4 linked regions of the Homo sapiens genome follow. The protein of the gene in region 4 interacts with the protein of the main gene of each other region in a biochemical or structural test. Each region holds a gene or a part of one and is shown on either strand. Other genes may lie near its edges. The genes, in order: NOTCH1, NOTCH2, CD46 and JAG1.

What was found.
Region 1: the proteins of JAG1 (region 4) and NOTCH1 form a complex in vitro, tested with the Homo sapiens proteins (3 studies listed by BioGRID and IntAct, with this or other methods).
Region 2: the proteins of JAG1 (region 4) and NOTCH2 form a complex in vitro, tested with the Homo sapiens proteins (2 studies listed by BioGRID).
Region 3: the proteins of JAG1 (region 4) and CD46 form a complex in vitro, tested with the Homo sapiens proteins (2 studies listed by IntAct, with this or other methods).

The regions. Positions count from the first base shown.
Region 1 is NC_000009.12:136,501,031-136,508,055, reverse strand, and holds part of NOTCH1 (neurogenic locus notch homolog protein 1 preproprotein), read left to right. Parts: coding exon 1-101; intron 102-618; coding exon 619-751; intron 752-1,082; coding exon 1,083-1,340; intron 1,341-1,416; coding exon 1,417-1,529; intron 1,530-2,174; coding exon 2,175-2,746; intron 2,747-2,951; coding exon 2,952-3,383; intron 3,384-4,725; coding exon 4,726-4,874; intron 4,875-5,567; coding exon 5,568-5,784; intron 5,785-5,967; coding exon 5,968-6,055; intron 6,056-6,142; coding exon 6,143-6,308; intron 6,309-7,025. UniProt on the Homo sapiens protein: Functions as a receptor for membrane-bound ligands Jagged-1 (JAG1), Jagged-2 (JAG2) and Delta-1 (DLL1) to regulate cell-fate determination.
Region 2 is NC_000001.11:119,961,656-119,968,680, forward strand, and holds part of NOTCH2 (neurogenic locus notch homolog protein 2 isoform 1 preproprotein), read right to left. Parts: intron 6,578-7,025; coding exon 6,422-6,577; intron 5,967-6,421; coding exon 5,778-5,966; intron 4,835-5,777; coding exon 4,721-4,834; intron 3,912-4,720; coding exon 3,798-3,911; intron 2,153-3,797; coding exon 1,919-2,152; intron 1-1,918. UniProt on the Homo sapiens protein: Functions as a receptor for membrane-bound ligands Jagged-1 (JAG1), Jagged-2 (JAG2) and Delta-1 (DLL1) to regulate cell-fate determination.
Region 3 is NC_000001.11:207,755,043-207,762,067, forward strand, and holds part of CD46 (membrane cofactor protein isoform 3 precursor), read left to right. Parts: intron 1-1,971; coding exon 1,972-2,160; intron 2,161-2,497; coding exon 2,498-2,600; intron 2,601-4,596; coding exon 4,597-4,682; intron 4,683-6,206; coding exon 6,207-6,404; intron 6,405-7,025. UniProt on the Homo sapiens protein: Acts as a cofactor for complement factor I, a serine protease which protects autologous cells against complement-mediated injury by cleaving C3b and C4b deposited on host tissue.
Region 4 is NC_000020.11:10,663,991-10,671,015, reverse strand, and holds part of JAG1 (protein jagged-1 precursor), read left to right. Parts: intron 1-7,001; coding exon 7,002-7,025. UniProt on the Homo sapiens protein: Ligand for multiple Notch receptors and involved in the mediation of Notch signaling. May be involved in cell-fate decisions during hematopoiesis. Seems to be involved in early and late stages of mammalian cardiovascular development.

The sequences.
Region 1 (7,025 bases), on a different chromosome or scaffold from region 4:
ACACAGGCAGCTACTGTGAGGACCTGGTGGACGAGTGCTCACCCAGCCCCTGCCAGAACGGGGCCACCTGCACGGACTACCTGGGCGGCTACTCCTGCAAGGTGGGGGTCCCTCCTAGGGTAAGGGTTGTGGCCGGCACGAGTGTTGCCACACACCAGGCCCTGGCTGGGAGCTGGCCCAGTGGAGAAAACTGAACCTGATAGGCCCATGCACTGTTCAGTCTCATTAGGGGAGGGCTGGGGTAATCAGGGTAGACTGCCTGGAAGAGGTGGCCTGTGGAAAGCCTGAAGGAGGGTACCTATACTGAGAAGTGGGATGGGGTTTTCCCTTCCCCTAGATTGTGTCTGGGCTTGGCCAACACCTACCCTGAGGCCCTCACCTCTATCCTATGGGACGGGGTCCACCCACCCCCAACAGGCAGTGACTCCGGTCACCGAGGCCCCGCCAGGGTCTGTTGGGCTGGGTCTCTCTCCAGGTCTGACAGGAGCGAGGGGCCCGTGGCTTCGCTGGACCTGAGGGCAGCTCATGTGGCCCTGTCAGCCCTCACAGTGGGGTGTGGGAGCACTGCATCCTGGCGCCGGCTGAGCCGAAGGGCCCCTCGTTCTGTCGCCTGCACAGTGCGTGGCCGGCTACCACGGGGTGAACTGCTCTGAGGAGATCGACGAGTGCCTCTCCCACCCCTGCCAGAACGGGGGCACCTGCCTCGACCTCCCCAACACCTACAAGTGCTCCTGCCCACGGGGCACTCAGGGTAAGGGCCGCTGCACGGAGGGCTGGTGTTGGCCATCCATGGCCAGGGCAGGGGCAGGGCAGGCACCCCGGGACCGGCCAGAGGCATCCAGGAACCAGCCAGAAACTCCCATTTTCCTGTGTGAGGCCAAGGCCGACTCACAGCTGCCCAGGGAAAGGGCCCAGAGCGGGGGTCCCAGTGGGAAGGGCGTCTCCACGGCACCCTTGACACCTGCCTCTCCCGAGTGTCCGTGCAGCCCCAGACCTGAGCGCTCGTCTTCCGGGACGGACACGCGGCACGGCAGGGCCGGGGTGTGGCGGGCTTGGGCCACTGACGAAACCTGGCCCCGCAGGTGTGCACTGTGAGATCAACGTGGACGACTGCAATCCCCCCGTTGACCCCGTGTCCCGGAGCCCCAAGTGCTTTAACAACGGCACCTGCGTGGACCAGGTGGGCGGCTACAGCTGCACCTGCCCGCCGGGCTTCGTGGGTGAGCGCTGTGAGGGGGATGTCAACGAGTGCCTGTCCAATCCCTGCGACGCCCGTGGCACCCAGAACTGCGTGCAGCGCGTCAATGACTTCCACTGCGAGTGCCGTGCTGGTCACACCGGTGGGTGCCGCGCCCAGGCGGGTGGGGCGTGTGGGGCAGCAGGGTGAGCCTCTCACTGCCCTGCTCTTACCCCTAGGGCGCCGCTGCGAGTCCGTCATCAATGGCTGCAAAGGCAAGCCCTGCAAGAATGGGGGCACCTGCGCCGTGGCCTCCAACACCGCCCGCGGGTTCATCTGCAAGTGCCCTGCGGTAGGTGCAGGGGTGCAGGGAGGCAGGGGCCCGCCAGGGGAGACACCTGGAGAGGTCCACGTGGGGGCCTCGGGGCGCAGACCGGGCAGTGATCCTCCCGGCCTTCATCCTCCTCCTCACCCTGATGTCTTTTTTTTTTTTTTAGTTTCAATAAATGATTTTAGAGACATTTTAGATTTATAGAAAAATGGAGCAGGAAGTAGACTCCCTGGGGTGGCTGTCCCCTGCACGCAGTTCCCCTGGTTAGCAGCTTGCATCAATTTCACTCTGGATTTCAGTGATACATTGTTACCAACAGCAGCCCTTCCTGTACCTGGGGCTTGCCCTTGGCTTTGTGGTTGTGGGTTTGGGCTGAGGTATGACATGCCTGCCCACCCTCGCAGGATCACGGCAGAGAGTCCCTGCCCTAAAGTCCTCAGCACTCCACCAGTTTACCCCTTCCTCCATCTCCCGACCCCCTGGCACCCCCGATCTTTCTCTGTTGGTAGAATGTGTGTAAAGGGTTTTGCTGCTGGGGGCAAGGTTGCAGGCCGCCTCCCAGGTTAGAGGAGAGCGGTGGCACTGCTGGCCGAGGGCTGGGTGTGAGGTGGCGGGGGGGCGGGGGGTGGCCCACCCCGACACCGTCCTGTCTTCCCTCTCGGGCAGGGCTTCGAGGGCGCCACGTGTGAGAATGACGCTCGTACCTGCGGCAGCCTGCGCTGCCTCAACGGCGGCACATGCATCTCCGGCCCGCGCAGCCCCACCTGCCTGTGCCTGGGCCCCTTCACGGGCCCCGAATGCCAGTTCCCGGCCAGCAGCCCCTGCCTGGGCGGCAACCCCTGCTACAACCAGGGGACCTGTGAGCCCACATCCGAGAGCCCCTTCTACCGTTGCCTGTGCCCCGCCAAATTCAACGGGCTCTTGTGCCACATCCTGGACTACAGCTTCGGGGGTGGGGCCGGGCGCGACATCCCCCCGCCGCTGATCGAGGAGGCGTGCGAGCTGCCCGAGTGCCAGGAGGACGCGGGCAACAAGGTCTGCAGCCTGCAGTGCAACAACCACGCGTGCGGCTGGGACGGCGGTGACTGCTCCCTCAACTTCAATGACCCCTGGAAGAACTGCACGCAGTCTCTGCAGTGCTGGAAGTACTTCAGTGACGGCCACTGTGACAGCCAGTGCAACTCAGCCGGCTGCCTCTTCGACGGCTTTGACTGCCAGCGTGCGGAAGGCCAGTGCAAGTAAGGCTGCGGGGCTCATGGGGCTGAGGGAGGACCTGAACTTGGATGTGGCCTGGCTTGGGCCCGGAGGCCAGCATGCAGTTCTAAGGCTCTGCTCAGGGGGTGCAGGGACGTCCCCCGCGGCTGGCCAGTGGGCTGGAGGCACCGGACGGCGGGTGCGAGGCCCCCCGAGGAAGGCGGCCTGAGCGTGTCCCGCCCCCCACAGCCCCCTGTACGACCAGTACTGCAAGGACCACTTCAGCGACGGGCACTGCGACCAGGGCTGCAACAGCGCGGAGTGCGAGTGGGACGGGCTGGACTGTGCGGAGCATGTACCCGAGAGGCTGGCGGCCGGCACGCTGGTGGTGGTGGTGCTGATGCCGCCGGAGCAGCTGCGCAACAGCTCCTTCCACTTCCTGCGGGAGCTCAGCCGCGTGCTGCACACCAACGTGGTCTTCAAGCGTGACGCACACGGCCAGCAGATGATCTTCCCCTACTACGGCCGCGAGGAGGAGCTGCGCAAGCACCCCATCAAGCGTGCCGCCGAGGGCTGGGCCGCACCTGACGCCCTGCTGGGCCAGGTGAAGGCCTCGCTGCTCCCTGGTGGCAGCGAGGGTGGGCGGCGGCGGAGGGAGCTGGACCCCATGGACGTCCGCGGGTGAGTGAGACCCGGCGCCCACGGTCAATCCCCGCAACTCTCCTGGGCCCTCCCCGACGGCCTCCCTGCCCCTCACGGCCGGCGCCATGGCAAGCAGTACTCTCCCCACTTTATGGTAAAAGAGACGGAGGTTCCGAGAGGACCTGGGACTTCAGGGCCTGCGCAGGCAAGGAGTAGAGGCAGCATTCCAGCTCAGGGCCCTGACCCCACAGCCACACCCTTTTCCTGGGCCACTGCCTTCCCCTGGACAGGCGGCACTCCTGTGCCCAGTAGGTGATTTTGAGATTGAGCTGTGCCTTAGGCACTGGATACTACACTGATTAAAACTCAGCCCTCTGCCAGGCGAGGAGGCTCACACCTGTAATCCCAGCACTTTGGGAGGCTGAGGCAGGCGGAGCCCTTGAGCCCAGGAGTTCGAGACCAGTCTGGGCAACATAGGGAGACCTTGTCTCTGTTTTTTTTAAAAAAGTATTAAAAGAAGTAAAAAACAAAACACTCAGCTCTCCAGGGGTTCCCACAGGGCTGAACAGCCCCACCCCAGACAAGAATGCCGCTTGGTCATGGCGTCTGCCTGGCTTGGGCTGGAGAGGAGGCAGGTGGAGGTCCTGGGAGGGGGCATTGCTGGGCCTTGCAGTTGGAGGAGGAGCTGGTGGGGGTGGGGGGTCCCACGGTGGGAGAACACAGGCAGGAGCAGCTTGAGTGCAGGGGGCACCCCACAAGGCTCCCGCCCATGCCTACTCGATCTGGGGCAGCTGGACCCAGGAGCCAGGTTGGTTGTGCCCTTCGTGTGCCTGACCCTGGTGGGTTTGCCTGTCAGTTCTGCTGGCTTGGAGCAATCCTGGAGGTCAGAAGCATCATCTCACAGGCTGGATGGGATCCTGCTCACGGGAACCCAGTCCTGGGGAGCAGAGCTCACCCCCAGCCAGCCTCACCACACAGCCCACCACCGCTGCACCCACCCCCACCTCACGCCTGTGCTTCCTGCAGGGCCTGGGGATGGCTCCTGGGGGAGGACTGGGCTCCTGGCACATACTCTGTCCTGAGATGAGGAAACGTGTCTGTGGCACCAGCAGGAGCCAGAGAGGGTGTCAGGGCGGGCCAGGGAGAGCGCGTTGGTGGGTATCTGGGATGAGCCGTGATCAGCACTGGCCGGAGTCGGGGGGCTGGCACCAGTCCCCTGCAGGGTAGCTGCTGTCAGACCTGGCTTCCCACCACCCCAGGCTGCCTCACCATGTCCTGACTGTGGCGTCATGGGCCTCAGTGTCCTGCGGCAGCATCCCTGGCCGGTGGGCGGGGGAGGAGGAAGCCTCGGGTCCCAGCCCCTCTCTGATTGTCCGCCCAGCTCCATCGTCTACCTGGAGATTGACAACCGGCAGTGTGTGCAGGCCTCCTCGCAGTGCTTCCAGAGTGCCACCGACGTGGCCGCATTCCTGGGAGCGCTCGCCTCGCTGGGCAGCCTCAACATCCCCTACAAGATCGAGGCCGTGCAGAGTAAGTGTGGCCCCATCCCGGGAACAGGCTCTGCCTGCAGGGGGTGCCATCCCCCCGTGCCCCAGACACGCTGGCTGTTTGTGCCAGTTGCTACCCACGGGTGTGAGCGTTGCCGTCCGAGTTGGGGTAGGGCTTTTCTGGAATTTTCTGAATGGCACTCCGCCCCCACCTGCGGCGGTCACAGCTGCCGGTGGAGCCACCTGGGAACGAGTCCAGCCACGGGAAAGTGGGTGCCTGCTTCTCTCCCCACCCTTTCCTCCTGAATTTTCTTTGTTGGGTATTATTTCAAAATCATTACGGCTTTTTTTAAAGAAAAAAAAAGAGAGAGAGAGAAGAATTGATCGGTGTCATGTGAAGTGTTGAAGTTTGTATCTTGAAAATCCCTCTAAATCCTTTGTCTTAACAGCTCAGTGCGAGTGCAGCGATTTGAAGTTGACTAATCCTCCTTCCTTAAAGGAGAAAAAAGTAAAAGCCGTCTCCAGATAGAGTCGGCTGGTGCAGGAGAGAATTTAGCGATAGTTTGCAATTCTGATTAATCGCGTAGAAAATGACCTTATTTTGGAGGGCGGGATGGAGGAGAGTGGGTGAGGAGGCGCCCGGACGCGGAGCCAGTCCGCCGCCCCCCGGCCACCAGCCTGCTGCGTAGCCGCTGCCTGATGTCCGGGCACCTGCCCCTGGCCCCCGTGCCCGCAGGTGAGACCGTGGAGCCGCCCCCGCCGGCGCAGCTGCACTTCATGTACGTGGCGGCGGCCGCCTTTGTGCTTCTGTTCTTCGTGGGCTGCGGGGTGCTGCTGTCCCGCAAGCGCCGGCGGCAGCATGGCCAGCTCTGGTTCCCTGAGGGCTTCAAAGTGTCTGAGGCCAGCAAGAAGAAGCGGCGGGAGCCCCTCGGCGAGGACTCCGTGGGCCTCAAGTGAGCGGACGCCGCCCCTGCTTCTGGGTCCCCGGTGGGAGGTGGGACCTGGCCGAGCATCCTCACCGGGAGTCTGCCCCTCCCGACCCAGGGCCCACCTCCCACGCCAGGCCCGGGCCAGGGGTCTCTGGGGGCTTCCTAGGGAGCTCGCTCAGCCTCACTTCTCGACCCCTCACCCCCCAGGCCCCTGAAGAACGCTTCAGACGGTGCCCTCATGGACGACAACCAGAATGAGTGGGGGGACGAGGACCTGGAGACCAAGAAGTTCCGGGTGAGTCGCGAGGCTCCCGGGCTCCTGGGCTCCCGGGCACCTGCTGCCGGGCTGCCCTGACAGGCTCTGCTCACTCCCTCTATGTAGTTCGAGGAGCCCGTGGTTCTGCCTGACCTGGACGACCAGACAGACCACCGGCAGTGGACTCAGCAGCACCTGGATGCCGCTGACCTGCGCATGTCTGCCATGGCCCCCACACCGCCCCAGGGTGAGGTTGACGCCGACTGCATGGACGTCAATGTCCGCGGGCCTGGTAAGGGTGCCAGCAGCCAGGGCTTCCCTAGCCCCGTGGCCCACCTGCCTCTCTCCCCTAAGCCCCGAGGCTGGGGTACAGTTGATACTCTGGAAACTTAGAATTGGGGGTGAGAGCTTTCATCCTTGGGGTGTTTCCCATTCAGAGTAGACGTGGGGGGGTCCTGGAGTCCTCCTGTTCTTCCACCAACCCCTTCCTGGGGTGATACCGCAGGGCCACTCTGTCCCTGTAAATTACTCTTTTCTGAAACCTTCTTGAGACATGGAAAGCGTTGATTTTCTTTTTCTTTTTTTTTTTCTTTTTTTTTTGTTTTTGAGATGGAGTCTCGCTCCGTCACCCAGGCTGGAGTGCAGTGGCACGATCTCGGCTCCCTGCAACCTCCACCTCTCGGGTTCAAGCAATTCTCCTGCCTCAGCCTCCCCAGTAGCTGGGACTACAGGCGCCTGCCACCACACCTGGCTAATTTTTGTATTTTTAGCAGCGATGGGGTTTCACCATGTTGGCCAGGCTGGTCTCGAACTCCTGACCTCAGGTGATCCGCCCACCTCGGCCTCCCCCAGTGCTAGGATGACAGCGTGAGCCTCCGCATCCTGCTGAAGCATTAATTTTCTAACTGCATGCTTCTGGGGTCCTCTTTTTCCTGGGTGGATTTTGGGTGCCAGGTCTTGGGCAGGTCAGGAAGCAGTTGCCCGCCAGGAGTTTAAGCTGGATTCGGCT
Region 2 (7,025 bases), on a different chromosome or scaffold from region 4:
ACTAGCTCAAGTTGGTCTGTTACTTGAAACACAAAGAAACTTACTTAAAACTTTACTATCATAAAAGCACAGATGAGAGAACGCACTGAAGGTAACTCTGGGTAGTATATCTCACTTTAAGTACCCAGTGAGTGACTACCACAATTTTAGCTGACAAACTGTAAAATATTTCTTCCATCCACTCCCCTATCCAAACACCAAACTACCAACTTAGGCCATATAAGTGGAACAGGAATTCTTACTCTAGAACTTCAGACTCTATTCATAATGCCTCTTTTAATGGATTTTCCACCCAGGTCCCTGATACATGCCAGGTCTTTCTCCACCCATTACAGATCAACATTTTTTTAATGTTGTCTGACCGTTGCTTGCTTTAATTCTCCAAATAACTGCAGGAACATCTTTGGCAGGTTCTGACAGATTCCGGGCCTTCCTTTCCATGCTGCCTACAGATCACTCATATTGACTTCTCACCTTCTCAGTGACAGCTACTTATACCATACCCTCTCTGTCCTCCCCAGAAAACACCTGATATATCCTGGTATAATGATATAATGCCAGAGAAAACAAAGTGCTTGCCAACCCACCACTCACCCAGGTTTCCAGTATGTTTATTATGATGGGAATGATAGCAAAGTCTAAAGCCCCTCGATTCTAAAGACATCCAGTCAATTGCTTGTAAATCTCTCAAATTTCTTTTCCTACTATAATTTCTCATGTCTGAGGAACAGCCCGGAAGCAAATTGCTTTTGGAAGTTTTCACAAAGATCTATTCAGCCCTTTTAGTGAGTTATCTAAATGTGGGGAGGGAAAGGCATTTTCAGCTGTGACGGCATGGGATGTTTTTCGTATGCTTGAGCAATTCAAAAAGGACTTTGTTTTCAAACTTGGCATGTATGAAGCCTTGGGTAAAGACCAGAGCCTTTGACAAATTTGAAGAAATGGATTTGGAAACAGTAAAAGAAAATGAGGGTAGCTAACTACCCTCTCCACCTCTGCTCTCTACATAGGTCATTTTCCTTACATCCAGAATGAGTTCTCAATAAATCACTCCTTTATATTGGCAGGTTTCCTTCTAACAAAGGCACACATTGGTTAATCTTCCACTAATACATTTTCCTTTGATCTGGAACATAGTACATCTCTGTCCACTAACCATAGTTGTGACCATAATCATTCATCTAATAAGTAAAACAGAACCATCCAAACCTGTGAGATGCTGCTGCCTGAGAAAATAATTCCACATCCCCCCAGAAAGGAGCAGCATGTCCTCACGACCAACAAGGAGTCATTCAACCAAGGTCAGAGAACAATGATGAACTCCGAGGATAGGAAATGACAGCTCTGCGTTCTACTTTAGTTACTGTGGTGTGTTGTAAGGTATCTCCTCTTCCTTAGAATCCCCCAAGATGGCTAAGGCCCCACCAGAGACAAGTGACTGAAGAAACATGTCACAATAAAGAGACTGAACTGTGAAAGAGAAAATACATTAAAGGAAGGGAAGAAGGGAAGAAGGAAGGTAGGTAGGAAGGAAGGAAGGAAGGAAGGAAGGAAGGACTGAATTTATTAATCTGGGTGGGGTGGAACTTAAAGAAAAAAAGATAATATAGCCACAAAAAAGAGGGTTTTCAATTTTAAATCATTAATTTTAATTTTTGAAGTGGTATGCCTCTATTTAACAAAACACACACAAACACACACACAAAATCATCAGATTGGCAGAGCTATTGTCTCTGACTTCTCCACTGGCTAGGGCCATTTGCCTTGAGACATTTATGTTTGTGGCTTTGGCTGTGCTTCTCAGAATCAGGACTGTTTTTTAGGTATCTGAGCATATGCCAACAGTCTGAAACATCTGTGTAAACAGATTTGAGAAACAGTGAAAACCCCATACCAAACATAAACAGAGTGGGCTTACCTGACGTGCCTGGCTGGCAGTTGCACTGGTAGCCATTGACCAGGTCAATGCAGCGACCATCGTTCAGGCAAGGGCTGCTGTAACATTCATCAATCTGGTCACTGCAGATGGCGCCCATGTACCCGGGATTGCAGATGCAGGTGTAGGAATCAATACCATCCTGACACTGACCATGGTGGCAAGGATCGGGGTCACAGTTGTCAATGTTCTCCTCACACAACACACCAGTGAAACCTTTGGAAAGAATTTTATCAAGGATTCTCAAAGACCAAGGCAGATATTCCACACCAGAACACAAGTGTAGCTACATCCATTTACTCTACACATTCGATGTGTGGTCAATTAATACTGCAGGTCTTGAGCAGTAGAAAACGACGATCTGCATTGATTTAGAAAGTATGCCTGGAGAGAGGTGCTTAAAATAAAGATTTCCAAATCAAATTTTAGAATTGAAATACCTTCGCAACTGATCAATAATTTCATTGCAGAGATGCTTTAACTGCACCTTCATTTCTTACTAGGCTTCAGGTATAACAGCTCAAAATATTTTTCCTTTATATATTTATCTTTGTATTTCTTTCTTCCCAAGTCCAATATACAGGTTAATGATTTCATGTATCTTATGTCCCCAATTCTGACTTTGGAGGTAAGAGAGCTTTATTTTACTTCTCTCAACTCCTCTGAGAGTAGTATGCATATATAGTAGTTTTAAATAAATACTGGTTGAATAAAATGAATGAACCTGTTATGAGAATTTAAAAGAAAAAGAGACAAGTAAGATTTCCTTTCTTCGAGGTGTAAATAGACAAACATTATATCTTTCCCTAAAAGACTCCAGGAGTCCTCCCCCCACTTTTAAACCTGAGCTAAAGGTTTTTAATCTCTTTGAAACTTATCCTCTACAAGAAGAATCTGGCCAGGGGAAGACAAAATCTGGATTCTCTGACAAGCATTAACTATTTGCAAAAAGAAAGAAAGTGGCTCATCTGAGTTGTCCTAAACTAAGTAGGTCTAATAATTAAAATATTAACTTTTTGTATTAATTTTCACAATTAAATTTGCTTTTCTGTGATCAGAAATAAATTATATGCATGATGCCTTTAATCTTTAAGACTCCATTCTCTAAAATTAATGTCTTGAATTACATAAATAACTTCTTTCTCAAGCAGTCAGATAATAAAGAAGTTCACTTCTAATAATTTCTAGCCTTTCTGTATAATATTTGCCTGTGTAAAAGGAAATGTGTAATAGGGAACATCTGGCTTACTGAAATCCAATCCCAAGTACAAAATGTGATTACAAACCCAGAAATGCAGAATATTTGTGCACAGATCGTTTTTGACTCTAGTTGCAGAAGTCAGCAAAGAGGACCCAAACTTTCCCAGTGAGAGCTCTCTCTCCTGTCATTTACACACTTGACTCTCAATCCTATTTTGGTGTCTTTTATGCAGAATACCCCTGCACTTGTACACATTCAGCCTTTAAATTTCTGGGCCTTCTTTCAGTCACTTGCTTCAAGAAACACAGAGCCAGGCCTCCTGCTGAGAAGCCCCAGTGAAAAATAGCTTTCAACTGGATTTCTTCTCTTTCCTAAATGAGTCAATCTAGCCAGCTGGAAACTTACTGCTGCCAAAATCTGTCCCAGAAAGACATGGATACCAAATGGAAATATCTGGGCCAGACCACTGTTGTGGTGGAGGAGGCAGGTGCTGCAGAAAAAGAGAGCAGCAAAAAATTTGTTAGAAACAGCTCTTCCTAAACACAGAGGAGCCTCTGGGAGTGGACTGGCCTGGCACAGCAGCTAGCAGAGGACAGGGACAATCACCCTATTTTGTTCAGATGGACCTACCAAGGAGATGAAAAGTGAGAAGAATCTTACCTGTGGCACACTGGCATTCATAGCCATTCGGGTGATCGATACACTTTGCCCCATTCAGACACGGAGTACTGGAACAGTCATCAATATCAATCTGGCAAACTGGCCCAGTGAAACCTCAAAAAGGGACAGTGGTAACATGAGTCAAAGGATTATCTTGTGTCTCCCTTTACCATGAGAATGATGTTAGGTTACTAGCAGGGCTTATACCAATGGGTCAATAAGCCTATGCTTTATTATTCTCCCCAACAGGTAACTGGAATAACCAGGTGACACTCAGGGAATCAGAGGCACTTGTGGTGTGTCTCTACCATTGCTTCTTCACAGACAGACTTCACTTCTAAATGAAGGATGTAGGAAGTGAAATTTATAGGTGGAACCTCAAACAAGTAACTGTAGCTTCAGAGGCAACAGAAACCTTCTCTCTGAAGATACAATGGGGTAAGATGCAATCTATGGAGGACAATTTGGCATATCTTCAAAAATAGCTTGAGGAAAAAAAAGGAGAGACAGAGAATCTTGGAAAAATTGGCATGTGTTGTCTGTTTCTGAACTCATGGGTGAAATGTCTAAAAATAACAGTCTCACAGAGGGCCTTCAAGAATATGACCCATGGGAAAAAAATAAAATCCCGAATAGCCTACAACTAAGGCTTCTGTGAGGTATGAGCATTCTGAAATATATACACAGACGAAGAGGTCATGGGCCATTCAAGAATAGACTTGGACTTTTGGCCACAAAGGACTTGTAAGATATAGTAGCTAAAACAAATTCTCTATTTCTGTACACACACACTCCTATCACCAAGCACTTACTCTAATGATTTCCTCATGCACAGCCCACACACATTCTCTCCCTGCTCTCTTCCCTGTGGTCAGTTGGCTTTGTGCTTTAAGAGAAAACAGGGCCAGGTCGTGGGCACTTACCAGGAGGACACAGGCACTGGAAACGATTGACTTTATCCACACACTGCCCATTGTTCACACAAGGGTTGCTCTGACATTCATTTATTTCTAATTCACAATGCACACCTTTGAAACCTAAACAAAACAGACCACACAAGTGGCTTAAAGAGAGAGAAAGGTGTATTCCAGACAAGGAAGCACAAATTTGCAATGATAACTACATCCTTTGCGAGTACACACATTTCTGCAGAGAAAAAAGGAACTCTGCCATGATGAGAAATAGTCACTCCAAGTGTCAAGCAGGACAGGGCATACTGTGAAATACCCATGTCACTGTGAAAAGCGGGAAGGGATTACATTAAAAGACATTGGCAAGACCTAGCATATAAACAAGGACTGCTCCACATTTTCTGTGATAAATCCATACTTTCTGGACTGTGGAAGGCCCAAAATGTCCCCACTCTATGTTCCTAAAGACAAGCTGAGCTGGAGCTGTTGTTGCCTTCAGGGTGCAGTTCAAGGTCAGCAGTGCCTTTCAAGGCTGGAGTGGCCGGCAGCCTTAATCAGGCAGAGCAGCCAATGTTAGCCATCATTTCAAGCTGGATTTGGCTGTATCCTCTCAAAATTAAAGACATGGTCTATGCAGAAGAGCTCCAGAATACAACTAAACATGTACTGCACTTTAGATAAATGGAAACTTCCTATATAATTGTGGATAAAATTTATTTATATAAATGGAATGGTATGGTATTTGTAATTACATGAAGGTATCAGGAAAACTTGCTATTTAAAGGATTCTTACAGTAAATCATTTTTGAAATTTTCTATTACATGTGGATTTTGATATAACAGGCTTGTTTAATTTGGTCTACATAGCTTGATGAATTCTAGCACTGCCTTACTCTTTGAGTAAGGAAGGTTTGCTTGTGAACCCTGACTTCCTCTAGTCCCCAGTCAGCAAAGGAAATCAAATGCTGACAGAGCTCATCAGACTGCAATAGTATACTGAATGCTCTACCAAGAGAAGTTCAGAACAGTCCCTCCTCTCTAGACCCAACATGCTGATGGGCCCATTTACCTGGCATGCACAGACATGTGAAGCCTCCAATCTTATCCAGACAGGTAGCATCATTCTGGCAGGGGTCTGAATGGCACTCATTGATGTCCATCTCACAACGAGGTCCTGCATAACCCTTCAGACACTCACAGTGGAAGGCGCCATCCGTGTTCACACATTTTCCTGCATGCTCACAAGGATTGCTATTGGCTGAAAGACACAAGTACCAATTACTGGGATCAAAGCAGTTGAGTTTCCACAAATGTGAACAATAGAAGAGCATCTGATGGTTATAGCATCAGGGCCAGGCCTTCAATAATATCATTCCCAATTTTCTATTTTTTTTTCCTTAATTTAAAAAGAAATAAAAGCGGAGTATCCTCAACTGTTATGCATTTCTGCTATTGCAGTTTCTGCCCAAACTGTCATTGAGGTAGGGCTTTATATTAAGAATCAAGTACATACGTTTCATACAGTTAATCCCCAGAATGGAATATATGGTTATGGCTATGCTGAAAGGTCACTTGTAAACACTGGCCATGTAGCAAGAGTAATCTGAGGTTTGGGTGTATGTAATTTGCTTCTACAGTAAAATGTGCTTCAGTTTAAACATTTGCTGAGCTCAACAGACACTTCACAGAACAGAAAAAGTTCTGCTTACTCACCCATGGCACATTCATCCACATCTTCTGTGCAGTCAGCCCCTTTGTAGCCTTGTGGGCAGGTGCAAATATATTGCCCATTTAGGGGGTTGGTGTCACACAGTGCCCCCTTGTGGCAAGGATTGCTGATGCATGCATCATCCAGATGACACAGGAGACCTGTCACAGGGTGGGGCAAAGGACAACTAAGAGAAAATGTCTCTCACTTGGGGAAGAGCTTTCTCTTTCACCCAGGAGGGAAAACCTCATGATCAGTTCCTCAGAATCCAACATGGAGATTTATACGCAACTTCTGCTTTGCCTGACCCTACCTTGGGGACATGCTTGGCCACCAGCAAAGCACCTAGATGCAACCCTAGACTCTGACCCTGAGCTCTCAGCTAGACCTCTCCTCCAGGACAGAGACATCTACAGGCCAGAAGATAAGAAGACGGAGACAGGAAAGTGGAGCTATCTTCCAGATAGTGTGCCAGATTTAGCAAATAAAATAGAGGATGTCCAGTTGAATTTTAGATAAACAAGAAGTAATTTTTAGTATGTCTCAAATATTCCATACATCCTATATTTTATCCGGAATCCTACTTCCCCAATATTATGCTACCTGATG
Region 3 (7,025 bases), on a different chromosome or scaffold from region 4:
CCCCTCATGGTCAAGGCTGCAGTGAGCCCTGATCATACTCCAGCTTGGATAACAGAGCAAGAGACCCTGTCTCAAAACAAAACAAAACACACACACATACACACACAAACAAACAAAAAAAGAAACAAAATAGGAAGCTGAAGAAGATAATGAAAGCGATTTGAAATAGAGGAACATAGAATTATGAAATGAATAGGGTGCAACATGGAAAATAACAAAACTAAGAATGAAGAGAAGGAAAAGCAAGGTTAAGTTTGAGGTTCATAAGGGTAAATCAAGACAGGTATGAAACCTAGAGAAAGTAAAAATGAGAAGTCACGATGCTAGGCAGAGAGAATACGTGAATTAAAATAAACATTCAATTTTTGGAGCAACTCACTCTCACAAGGAGAAGGTTTCGTAAGCAGACAGTGCTGTGCATGGGAGACCTGCCCTCTCAAAGGTAGTTGCCAAATGGTTCCAGATAGTTGAAGGAAACATGTATCAAATTTCAGGCCAGTCTCATTCCTCCAGAAGAGGAGCTGCTTTTTTGGACAAAACCCGCAATCTCCTGTTGTGCGTGGTCTCTTCTGCCTATTTTAGGTGTTTTCCTTATTTCCAGTGAAAGAAGCCAAGATCAGTAAGCACTTACACAGTAGCGTCTCAGTTTCCTTACTGGGCATACTACAATGCAAAGAGAGCAGTCCATATCTGGTCACCTGCCAGGATACCAGAAGACTGGGAGATAGGCAGCACAAGAAATGGCCTAATCTTCTTTCTCCATTGTGCTGTAGAATGATTATTTTCAATATGAAATTGATTACAATATATTCTTCACATTGTTTTGTGTTTGACAGCAGTGGATTTTGAATACCAAATTTTTTTTGAATAGCTACTCTGAGTGACATATTGTGCTGGGTGTTGTGGCCACATGGATGAATGGAGTTGGCCTTGTTAACTATTAAACACAAAAGCATGTGATAGTTACCTGAGAGATCCATGCAGGGGAGAGTCCAGGGGAAGGTGACTGATCACTGCTTCCCAGGGGGAGGCAGAAAATGCTTCCTGGAGGAGATGATGGGTGGATTAAGGAAGATGAGTTGAGCAGGAGTTGTAGCTACCAGCCAGGGAGGAAGGGTATTCAGAGCAGAGGAAGCAAGGTGAGCAAAGGCACCAAGATGTGACACTACTGGACTGCCAAGCTATTCAGTGTGGCAGAGTAGGGCAAAGGAGGCAAGAAAGAAGGAAGAGGATTAAATCACAGGGTGAGTAATTCTGAAAAGCAACAGACTCATCAGGAGTAAACACTCACCATCATAAATTCAGACTTTCACGTTATTACCTGTCCTTTTAGGGCAACTTGAGCCTTTTGTTTGACTTAGCACAACATGAATCCAAACTAGGGTTGTTTTGATTTTCCCAGGCACGGTAGCAGACAATTTCTTGAATACTTATTTGCAGATAGAGTTTGTCAGTGTCAGCATTTCTTGTGCACCCACAAGGTGAGTATAGTAGAAAAAGAAGAACATGGTTCTTGACCCCCAGGAACTTGCCTTTTAAGAGAAGACACCCTGAAGTGACAAGCTGTTATAAGTTAGTGTTTTAAACTATGGAAGAACAATCTGAGCAGAGTACTCTATACTGTAGAAGACTTCTTAGAGGAGAAGTTACTTTTGAAATGAATTTAGAAAAATGTGGGGAAAGATGCATCCATATATATTTTAAGATCAAAGACATTAATGCTGTCTCTTCAGTTTATTGTCGAATGTTTATTCCCAAACAAACCAAAAGCTAATAGGATGTTACTTAAAACATGCAAGTCCCATTTCCTCCACTGCTATGAGCACTCAGGTAAAAGCATGGAACAGTCATTTAAAATCTTGCCAAGGGCCTTTCTGTTTTTTCTGTACTACCTGCTGCCAGACCACAGTCCATGGCTGATGAAAGTGATATCAGTACTTCATCTTCATGTTCCTATTCTCTTATCCCTAGATGCCTGTGAGGAGCCACCAACATTTGAAGCTATGGAGCTCATTGGTAAACCAAAACCCTACTATGAGATTGGTGAACGAGTAGATTATAAGTGTAAAAAAGGATACTTCTATATACCTCCTCTTGCCACCCATACTATTTGTGATCGGAATCATACATGGCTACCTGTCTCAGATGACGCCTGTTATAGTAAGTAAACAAACCTCTTTTTTTTTTCTGCTTGCTCTAGAGATTTGCATACATTTTGGGGTACATATTCCACTACGGTGATGATGATTTTCTTCTTGTAAAATGAGGTTCAAGATAACAATGCATTTTTGCAAGCTTTGAGAAATCAAAATCTCCAAGAAATCATTTTCCTGGCAATAGATTGCCTGGGTGAATATGAATCTTAAGTTTGCCCTTATAATAAGTAAATAATGAAAATTATATTCCCACCCATTCAAAAGAGCACTGCAGAATTTTGATTTTGATTCAGATCTGTTTTATAACTGGATTGAAAACTATCAAAATTATTTTCTTTCAGGAGAAACATGTCCATATATACGGGATCCTTTAAATGGCCAAGCAGTCCCTGCAAATGGGACTTACGAGTTTGGTTATCAGATGCACTTTATTTGTAATGAGGGGTAAGTTGCTCCTTAGAGGAAATAAGGGAAGTGTTAGTAATTTTATTTTTGTTTTGCTTCTCTTCTTAAGCATTCCTGTAAACTTAATTTTGCTTTCTATGTGACAAGTTATACTTCTAGCCAAACAACTCTTGGATGTTTTATGGAGATAGGCAAGATATATAGTAAATAGAAAGTAATTGATATTTAAGGAAAGCAAAACTACTTGCTGTTTCTGACAATAAGTCTGTTGTAAGCATTAAGAATGTAGTAATCATGAGAATTTGTCCTTCACAACTGAGTGTCCCCTATTTAAATCTGCCAACTCTTAGAGTTGAAGTAGGGCTCACAAAAATGAGAAATAGAATTGCCAACTAAAGATACACTTGTATCCAGATGACTCTGTAAAGTGTTATCAGACCAAAACTGACGCGGTTAGCCTTTACCATCATGTTGATCAAAATCTCTCAGTTGAAAAACCTTATTTTTGAGACTGCTACAGTGTGAAGCATCTCAAGAGCAGGTACTGAGCCCTCGGTAATAGCCTTTGTTCTGTAGGGTTTTGAAGTTGTATATATTGGAGATACTAGACATTTAAGATAAATGTGCATTTATAGAGTAAATGTAAGTATTCTGCTATAACAGAATACTTGAGGCTAGGCATTTATAAAGAAAAGAAATGTATTTGGCTCATATTTCTGGAGGCTGGAGAGTTCAAGGGGATGGCAGTAGTGTCTGGCAAGGGCTTTTGTGCTGCATCATAACATGCTGGAAAGTGAAAGGGAAATTTAGCATGTGCAAAAAAGACAAAGCACAAGGGAGGGGGTTCTCGCTTTATAACAACGTGCTCTTATGGTAATGAATCCAAGCCTACAAGAATGAGAACTCATTCCCTGAAGAATTAATGAAGACCCTCTAGAAAGGCATTATACCTCTTAATGACCTAGTCATTTCTTAAAGGCCCCACCACCTCTCAATGCTGTTACACTGGCAATTAAATTTCAATATGAGTTTTGGTAGAGACAAACCAGATTCAAACAATAGCAGTAACACACCATAATATAGAAAAAGTAAGTGAGTCTTGGAGGAAAAATCAGCTGTGACTATGTAAGGCAACTGACAGTTTTTAAAATTTGGTCAAGTAGAAATATTGGAATATTCAGTTGACACATACTGCTTGCTAGGCACACCGAGGGATACCAAAACTTTAAGACAGTGACCTTCCTAAAAGAAGTTCTAACCTTATTGAGAAATAATATATACTGAGAGCAATAAAAGCAAAATACTAAATGAGAAATACCAAATAAGTAGAATTATTCATGATAATTACTCTAAGAGTCCAGAAGGAGGAGAGATTCCTGTGAATTTAAATCAGGGAAGATTTCATTGAGTATAGGGGTATACTTAATGAAAGTATTCTTATACTCAGTGAGCTATTCCTAGAAATACACTCTGTTCTAAATAATATTAATAGAAGCTAAAACTCATGTAGCACTATCTATGTGCCAAATGCTAACTTATCTAATCCCCTAAACAACCCCATGTACTGTTATCCCCTTTTAATCAATTAGGAAGCTGAGTGAAGGAACTTTAAGTGACTTACCCAAGCTCAAGAAACTAGATAAGTTGAGAAGCAGGGACTTGAATCTATCCATTCCAGCTCTAGGGCCTGTTCTCTCTACACAGTCCTTGTCCTTACTGTGCAAAGTGGTGTGAGAAAAGGCACAGAAATGAATGTGTAATGTGATTGCAGGAGGCAGCAAAGAGGCTGGGTGGAAAGGCACAGCAGATTTATTTAGACATCTTTGCTCTTGGCCAATATATATTCAAATGGGGAAACTCTATTTGATTAAATTGCAGATTTATTTAGCACTTTCGTTATATAGTATGTTGTTTAAGAAACCACCCCCTCAAACTACTGTAGTGTAGAAAAGAAACCATATAAAAAATTCCTTCATTATTATGTGTGTCTTATTAATTGCTATACAAAACAGTAACCCTTTCTTTTCTCATTTAGTTATTACTTAATTGGTGAAGAAATTCTATATTGTGAACTTAAAGGATCAGTAGCAATTTGGAGCGGTAAGCCCCCAATATGTGAAAGTAAGTAAATTCTTTTTTTTTAAATTTAGACCAGTAGTCCTCAAAGATTTTTGCCTCCTTTACACCCTTTACACTTTAAGATTAACAAAGATCCCAAAGAGGTTTCTTTTATGTGGGTTATATCTATTGGTATTTATCATATTGGAATTCAAACGGAGAGGTTTTTAAATAATTATTGATTCTTTTTGGTTTTGTTTGTTTTTCCTAAGACACGGTCTCAGGCTATTTCCCAGGCTGGGGTGCAGTGGCACAATCTCAGCTCATTGCAGCCTCAGCCTCTCCAGTAGCTGGGGCTTCAGGCATGTGCCACTATGCCTGGCTTTTTGTAATTTTTGAAGAGACGGGGTTTTGCCATGATGCCCAGGCTGGTCTTGAAATCCCATGCTCAAGCAGTCTGCCCCCGTGGGCCTCCCAAAGTGCTGGGATTACAAATGTGAGCCACCCCACCTGGCCTGATTAATTTGTAAGAATAAATGCAATACAAATTAACATATGTAACATAATTTTTATGAAAAATAATAATTTTCCAAATCAAAATAAAATTAGTGAGAATAGTGGCATTGTTCACATTTTTTGCATATCTCTTCAACATCTGGCTTAAAGCAAGATTGTATTTGGCCTGTTGTGTTATCACACAATATGTAGCCTTTGGAAAAATATCACTATATTCTTATTAGGATCAGAGTGAAAAAAGACAATAATATTTTGGTGGTATTGTGAATCACCAATTTAGAAAATGGATATATTTATAAATTGCAAAGGATTTCTTAACTAGCACCGAGTTAAGCATATTTTCTCATTAATTGTCAGCATTTCTTGTGATGACTAGAACAGAACTTAGCATGGCCTTCCAAATAAATACAGGCGTATTAGGCCGTTTTCGTATTGCTCTAAAGAAATACCTGAGACTGGGTAATTTATAAAGAAAAGAAGTTTAATTGGCTCATGTTTCTACAAGCTGTACAGGAAGCATGGTGCTGGCATCTGCTGGGGGTTTGGGTAGGCCTCGGGAAACTTAACAACCATTGGGAAAGACAGAAGGAGAGCAAGGTGTCTCACATGGCAGGAGCAGGAGGAGCAAGGTGGGGAGGACGGGAGGTGTTGCGCACTTTTAAATAACCAGATCTCCCAAGCACTCAGTATCACGAGAACAGCACCAAGGGGACGGTGCTAAACCATTCATGAGAAATCCACCCCCATGATTCAGACCCCTCCCACCAGGCCCCACCTCCAACATTGTGGACTACAATTTGACATGCGATTTGGTGGGGACACAGATCCAAACCATATCAATAGGTATTTACACTTTAAGAAAATGAGATTTGTTCTGAAAGTTAGTTACTACATTAATGGTTTGAATTTGGGATGATATATTTGCTCATAGAAACCTTCTTTTAAATCCATATTGAATTCACAAACAGCTTGTAGAAACCCTATATTGACAAATTTATTGAAGACACAGAAATTTTACTAATGCTGTCTTAATCTTTTACATTTCCTTTCCTCTTTTTCTTCATTTTTAAGAGGTTTTGTGTACACCACCTCCAAAAATAAAAAATGGAAAACACACCTTTAGTGAAGTAGAAGTATTTGAGTATCTTGATGCAGTAACTTATAGTTGTGATCCTGCACCTGGACCAGATCCATTTTCACTTATTGGAGAGAGCACGATTTATTGTGGTGACAATTCAGTGTGGAGTCGTGCTGCTCCAGAGTGTAAAGGTAGTGTTTCAATTTATTTCCTTCTTCATTTGTAAATACTATGGAAACATTTTGTAAATAGTTTCATCTACAGATAAACAAAGCAGGTGTATGTGCTTCCTCCTCCTGTATAATTGGTTTCTAATTTATTTTAATTCAGGTCAATTCAAGTCAAAAAATAGTTCTAGCTAGAGTTCCCTATTTCTCACCCCTACATGTTCTTGGCATTTCATTTTATACAGTGTGAACTACTGTGTACCTGCATGAGTTAGAAGTTTTTGTTTGAAAGAACCAAAAAAAAAAAATACACACTGGCTTAAAGAAAGTTTCATCTTGTATTACAAGAAATCTAAGAGTTCTGGCTATGGTAGTGGTAAACTGTGACAGACTAATCGTCTCACAAATAAAAATGATAAACTCTGGATAAAAAAAATTTTTTTTTTAAAGACCAAATGTTTAAGGCACTCTGGAGTGACCAAAAGTATGAAGACCATGTAGGGGACTTGCCCATTTAAAGAAAGAAATCACTGAATAACAGTGATTTAAAAGTATATACTCCCCAAGTACACATGAAACATTCTCCAAAGTAGACCATATTCTAGACAATAAGACAACTTTTAACAAACTTCAGAAAATTGAAAT
Region 4 (7,025 bases):
GTAGGGTCAGAGGGATGGCTAACATGAAAACAAGGAGGCTTGCTCCCTCGCTGGCCAAGGAAAAGTGACCTAGAAAAGTGCGTCTGTCCGCTTTTGACACTTGGTCAGAGTCCTCAATGGAAAACGAGCGGAAATAGTGTGGGAGGGTAGGAGAGGCGATTGATTTGCATTTGCTGGTGCTCTTCTGTGGTTTCAGGCCCCACGGGTCACCAACCATGAAATAGACTCTCGGCTTTTCTCGAATGGGGGAAGACCGATGGGGCACCACTGAAAATGTGGTTCTTTTGAAGTTGGGACAAACGCATGTATCACTCATAAACAAGTCTCCACCCTGATGCCCCAGAAAGGCCTGCTGTGAAACATAAGATTTAATTCTCAAGAGAAATTGGAGTTTAGGTGTATTTGTTTTTCTGTATGTGGTTGGAGAAACGGCACAGTCCGTAACTTTCAAGAATGATTCCAGGCTGAGTAGAAACGTAACTGAAACACTTAAGTAGCTGAGCGAGTATTTAACTAGAGGGCACAGCTTCATTTAGTTTGGCAATTAACTATGTCTTTTAAAACTGATTTCCTTGAATGGGAAATAAATGAACTTAGTACAGAATTCAAGAGATAGCAAGAAAAGGATATATGGTTAAAAACAAAACAAAACTCCAAACCACCTTGGGCTCCCAACCCCTAGCAGGCACAATTACCATTTGCATGAGTCCTCCCAAATTTGCTGACGCTGGGTATCAGCAAAGGGTGCAGGGGTAGGTCAGTGTAGAAGGTCATGTAGTTCATGCTTTTTGTTTGGAATTATGACCCCTATCCAAGCAACTGTTCATGTTCTAGAGAGGACGAGGAGGAAACGATTTGGTCAGATATGAAATACAGTCCATGTTCTGGTGTGCATGTGAAAGGCTTTGTAGAGGTGGCCCTTCCTGTCATATATCATATCTGAGTATGTCCCACGTGGTGTCCCCTGCCCCGGCTCTGGTCTTGGGGTAGTTTTTCACCACTGGCTTCTAATTCTCATACTGTTGCTGCTCTAAGGGGCTTAACTTGCAGCAACTATCTGGATTAATGATTCTCAAATTGGGGGACCAAGTGATAAGAACCATTATTGTGGGAAGTAATTGGGCTTAACAGGAAATAATTTAGGAATTACCACTTATAAATCACTGAAACGGTTAATCTGTACCTCCCAAAATTAGTGCTAAATCCCAGTAGTGCCTGCTTATTAAAAATACATTAGTGTAATTACCACTACTCATCTCCAAAAGCTTTTTGGGAACTTCAGAACCCCAGTTAGCTGTATTGCTGCATCGGTGGCCCCAGAGTGAAATGAATCTAGAGAAACGTTAGGGGAAGAAATTGGGGTATCTGGCTTATTAGCCTCATATTTAAATTCCATTGATCCTATTAAAAGACTTGCTGAGATCAACTTTTTTTTTTTTTTTTTTTTTTTTTTTTTTTTTTTTTTTTTGGAAAATCCAATGAAACGTGATTCTTCTGTGTGAGGGATGCCAGCTTTGGCCCCCTTCATGCTTCAGGCCTGAATGACCAATTGCCACGATGCTAATCACAGAATGTAATTGACAGGCCCTTACTTTTATGCCTTTTGCTGTCTTTTCCAGTCCCTGAGCTTCTGTAGATATGGTGTGGGCACATGGAGGGCTTAAGGATGGGGTTCTGATTTGACCTGCCTCCTTTCTGCAGCCAGGATTTGCATCCTGCCCGTGTAGTCAGCATGTATACAAAGAAAGAGCATGTGTGTACGTATGTGCTCAGAGCAAGGGACTTTCTGCATGTGGAGAAAACGCCTTTTGCCCTAAGAAGTCTACCTCAAACCAAAGGGATGAAGTGATGTATCTGTGTTGCAACACTGGGCTTGGGGGAAAGTGAAGCTGTGCTTGCTTTGAAAGAGCTGTGCTAAGTATCTGCAGAATAGCTGCTCCAAAAATGGAATCTTTATTCCAGGTACTTGGTTTCTAATTTTTTTTTCTCTTGCAGGTGTAACCTTCTGTGTTTTCTTTCTCCTTGTTGTCTTGTTTCTTAGCAACTTATTCAAACCTCCAGTACTTATAGGAATTTGCAACCCACCAGTTCCACACCCGTAATTCTACAGGGACTTAAGATGTTTTTAGAAAACGGTGAAACTTTGGCGTGGAGGCTCTTGGGGGAGTTCAGTGGGTTAAAAGGAGAGTCAGCAGCAACTTACAGGCATGCAACCTCCCAGAAAATCAGCAATCTAAGTGCTGCTCAAAATCTTCACACCAAATAGTGGTGCCTTTGGGGACCTTTTAGATAGAAGACGTGGAAAGTTTAGCATGGAGAAAAAAGTTACTTAAAAAAAAAAAAACAGTGTCAAGGTAACAAGGAGCCTTCACAGTTCCTGATCTGAAAACAGGAATGTGAACCAGAGGCCTTGGCTGGATTCATATCACCCACTGGCCCCATTGTAGAAGGGCCAGAAGTTGGTCCCAATGTCCGGCTTTCAAGGTTAGTGACAATGTAAGAATGCATGATCTCTGGATGTGCATACAATTAGCGTTGTAATCCATAAATGCAAATACTCCTGCAAATTCTTCCATGGTAAACTTCTGTAAGGCATGTTGCTCTTCCACCTACCCCCATCCTTCAAGCCTAGGATCTAGGCTGCTGAGAGAAGTGACTCTTGGCTTCAGCTTTTAAATATATATATATCTCTCAAAACTTAATCTTTTCTTCCAACTGTTGGAAGATACATTGGGATGAATGGAAAGTGGTGATTCTAAAATGGTGGTGGAAATGGAGGAGGGTCCTGGGTTCAGAAAAATCCCACCTTTACTTTGGTGCATGGCACTGGGTGGCTGTGTTGTGACTTCTTTGCTGATTTCTGATTACCGCATGGACCACAGCAGCCCTGTGACTGCTGTTTTTTTTTTTTTTTTTTTTTTTTATGGTGCCAGTGACATCTACCATTGGTGCAGTGCGTGTGCTGGGAAGAAATTCCGCAAGGTGGCTCCCAGTAGTTAAAGGAGTACATAAATAGTCAAACATGCAGAGTCCTCTACCAGCTCAACCCAGTTTTTATGCACTTTTGGTAAATAAACAGAAAGGCTTCTTGTTCAGGCTTGCTCTGTGTGAACCAGACCGTTGTGCTTGGCTGGCTTCTTGGTATTCTATCTATTAACCTCGCCACCCTTTTGTAACTGGTGCATTTAATTATCAGTGGGATGCTTTTCAAACAGGTAAGGGTAATGATGGGAAAGGGGGTGGGGATGTCTCATTGAGAGTCACAAATCTGGATATGAGCTTTGGGGCCCCTTGGTGAGCCTTTGAGTGGGCTTTGATGAGAAAATCACCCTTTGTAACCAGATCGGACTCTATTGACATGTCAAGCCCTACAGACTTGATTGCTTTCTGTGCCTGAAGTCTTAGCCTAGATGCTATAGGATAGTTGTCCTTTCTTATCTCACTTTCCCAAAACCCACTCGCATTGTGTGCATGAGTACGTGTGCATGCGCCACACATGGACTCCCTGCAACCTTTTCTGCTTAATATGTTTTGTGACTGGAATATTTTATACTCTGGCCACCCAGACACAGGCAGGACAATAGAGTTGGCCGAATTGACTGAAATGAGGATTATGGAGAATAATAGGGCCTCTCCAAAAATAATGCTAACACAGGACAAGCGACAGGAAGCAACAGTTGAGTCAGCAGAGCTCAGGGCCCCTGACGAACCCTGGGAGCCGACTGACTGTGCACAATGGCCGCGTTGGCACGTCGGGCATTCCCAGGATGTGCGTGCCGCCGGCGGGCCTGCCTGTCGCAGCAGCCTGGGGTTTTGGACGCCGCACGCGTGCCGTTTGGATGGCGGTTTATTTGTGTCCGTCAGCTTGGCAGGAGGGGAGGCAGCCGCTTCTCAGGGCTTGGTTTGGCTGTCACTGTTGCCAGGAAAAGGAAGCTCCCGGCTGCCAACACAATTACCTTTGTTTCTTACATCCCCCCTTCTTAATGTGGCAATTAAGTGCTTACCGCTCTGCCCAGTGCCAAGGTAACCGCCATGGAGTGGGACAGGGCAGAGAACACAACCTTGGCACAGCAGCCTAAGTGTGGAGGGCGGGAGGAGGTGCAGGGGCCCCAGCCTTGCTGGGAACCTGGTGGCCCTTGGATGCCTTGGGGCTTTGATGCCAGGACTCTCCTCTAGGTAGAATTCCACAGAAATCTTCCAAAAAGCAATTCCGAAGGCTGACCATTCCTCTTTGATGCCACACCAGAATGGGAACCAGCTGCCAGGTTTCCAGATTTCCTTGGGCTTGGAGCTGGGAAGGGGCTGAAGTGACTCACTTTGCAAATCCAGACTAAAGATCTGTTTGCTACCCCTCCTTCCTGTGTGGCCTTCACAGTACTGTTCTGGAAAACATAAGGAAAGATGAAAGCCAGGTGACTCTTCGGCAGAGTCTTAGTTCTGTAGTCTGAAATCAAGAAAAACCCAGGTATTTGCTTTTGTTGTTGTTGTTTTGCTGTATAAACTTAAGTTTGAACACTTGCCTTTCCAAGCCCTCCTGGGATGGAGGACTCCGCCTCTACTGGGGGTCAGAGTTGCAGTGGCTGCTTGTATGTGACTTCGGCATAGTGGATTTGCTGCTCTGTGGCCTGGTCCCTGCTTTGATGTGGGGTGCATGATCTGGGATCTCAGTGCCTGGGTGTATGTTCAGGGATGTACAGAGGTCAAGTGTGGGCCTGGGAAAAATTAAAGTTCTCTAGCAACTAATAATCATTGTTAAATTATCTTGATTGCTGATCTATAGTGTGGGGATGGAGTGGGAGGTTGAGTGCCTCCTAATAGGAACCTTGGAGGGAATCCTTTTTCTCTGTAGGGCTGGGCAGGAGGAATCCTCCTGCCCCAGGAGACCCTAATCCCCTCCCTGAAACAGACAGGAAAAAAAGTCCAGGCTTTGTTGCCGTCACTGTAGCTCCCTGCCCTCACCCTGTCTCTGCCTCTGAGAAAGAAGGGCAGTTCATGGAAAATCACAGAGCCAGGCACGTAGGGCTGTGTGCAATTCTTTTCTCTCCAGGTGGGGTGATGTCGGTCAGCAACTTCTGAGGTTTTCCCAGTTCTGGCGAGGATGAGCCTGGTAGACTGCTTGGTCGTCCAAGTTCTTGTGCAAGACCTAAGGATGCTTTCCTCTTTGAGTATTAAACTGAGTTAGTACTGCCATGCCAGCTCAGTCCCGGCACCTTCCCTTGCAGTGGGGTTTGTGGGTATTATGTGTTTAGCGCTTGTGCAAGTCTGTCAAAACTCCTGGTATCAATGCATTTAATCAGAGGATTAATTACAACAATACTGTTGAAGTGGAGGACGTGGGCCTCAACGTGACCAGCAAATGAAGGGCTTAATTATACAGAATCAGCCACACATCTGGCCTCATTTTGACTGTGCTCTTACCTCAAATCAGTAGAGAAATATAATTTCTTGCTGCTCTTAGGGAAGAGTCCTGTAATTTGCAGGAAGTCCTAAGAAACTTAAAGAGGCAGTAAATAAGGTATAACTTTCGCTAATAAAATAGTAACAACAGCAATGAATTTGGACCTGTGGCCACTAACAGGAGAGGGCTGGGTATGTGCCCTGGCTTGCCCGGTTTTGCTTGCTTTTCTGAGCATTTTCCCACAGTTATCAGTGAACGAAATGGAATCCTACTCTGCTTTGAGTATGAAACATATTTCGGCTGAATTCCAAGGCAGGGTCTATCACAAGATATTTTTATATTCAGAGATGACCTGCTGTGTCACTCTGAGAGCGCTAAGCTGGCCTTGAGTTATGAATGAAACTCCCTTTTACCCTCCCTTTTTCTCTTTTTCCTTTATCTTATAGGTGCTTTCTCTTCTCTTGGCAGCAGTGTGCTTCTGGTGGCACAGCACGGTATTATTTAATCTATACACGCTTCTATTTCCTATGGCTTGGTTTCTGACACAGCAAAGCAGGGATTCATAACCTAGTTCATGTTCCTTGTCTACCCCACCTGCCTTGAGTACATTTCTTCAGTGCCAAGATAGCAGAAGCTTCATTTAAACGCTGGTGTTTTGTGAGACTGACCTTACTGTAAATTACGAAGGAAAATTTTAGAAAAGGAGGGAATTTGCTAATAGCTTAGGTTTGGCTGGGGGTGGGGAGGTGGAATTCTGAGATAAGCTTGGAAGATAAAAGGTGCCTTCAGTTTAACAGCTGGCATCTTGCCAGTATCCAGGGAATTTGTTTAGTTAGTAGACTCTGATTATTCTTGGAATGTTAGATCTTATTAACAGATAAGTTCATCAATAAATATAACCCATGGGTGTGCGGTTGTTTCTCCCTTTGTACTTTCTTCCCTGGGATCTGCCCCCAACTCCACCGCCCAAGTGAGGTTGACTTCTTTGTCTTGCAGAGTCACTTTGCATCTACCCCCTCCTGTTTCCTAGAGTTACCCGATACTTGTGGGAGCCAGGATGGTCTCACATAGACAGAGTTTTCAAAGGGGTTCTAAAAAGGAAAAGGGGGCCTCCCTAGAGACTGCCTCACCAGGGCCCAAAGTGTAACCTTAGCAATACCCCCTCGGTACAAATACCTGGTTAGGTTAGCTTAGAATAAATTCTTTGTGTGTGTGTGTGTGTGTGTGTGTGTGTGTGTGTGTGTTTCCTCATGCACTAGGGTCAGGGTCTGGAAAGTTTTGGGAAACTATATGCTAAATACTCTCATATCATATAGTGAGGTGGCATTTCCTGATCTCAACTTTGAGCTGCCTGCATGCATGTTGACTCCAGTGCGTCCCTGCCAGGTGAAAGGAGTCATTTGTCAACCTGGGAAGAGTGCTGACAAAGGAAGGGGAGTTGGTTTGGATTTAAACATCCAGGAACTCAATGCAACAACCAACAGAATTTTTATTTTGGCATTATGGTTTTGTTTGGTGGGGTATTCTGGGAGGCCAAGAATGTACGAGATTTTGGAAAGTCGACCCTGTTTCTGAATTGCTAAATTGTTTGTTTGTCTTGCAGAGGTCCTATACGTTGCTTGTGGAG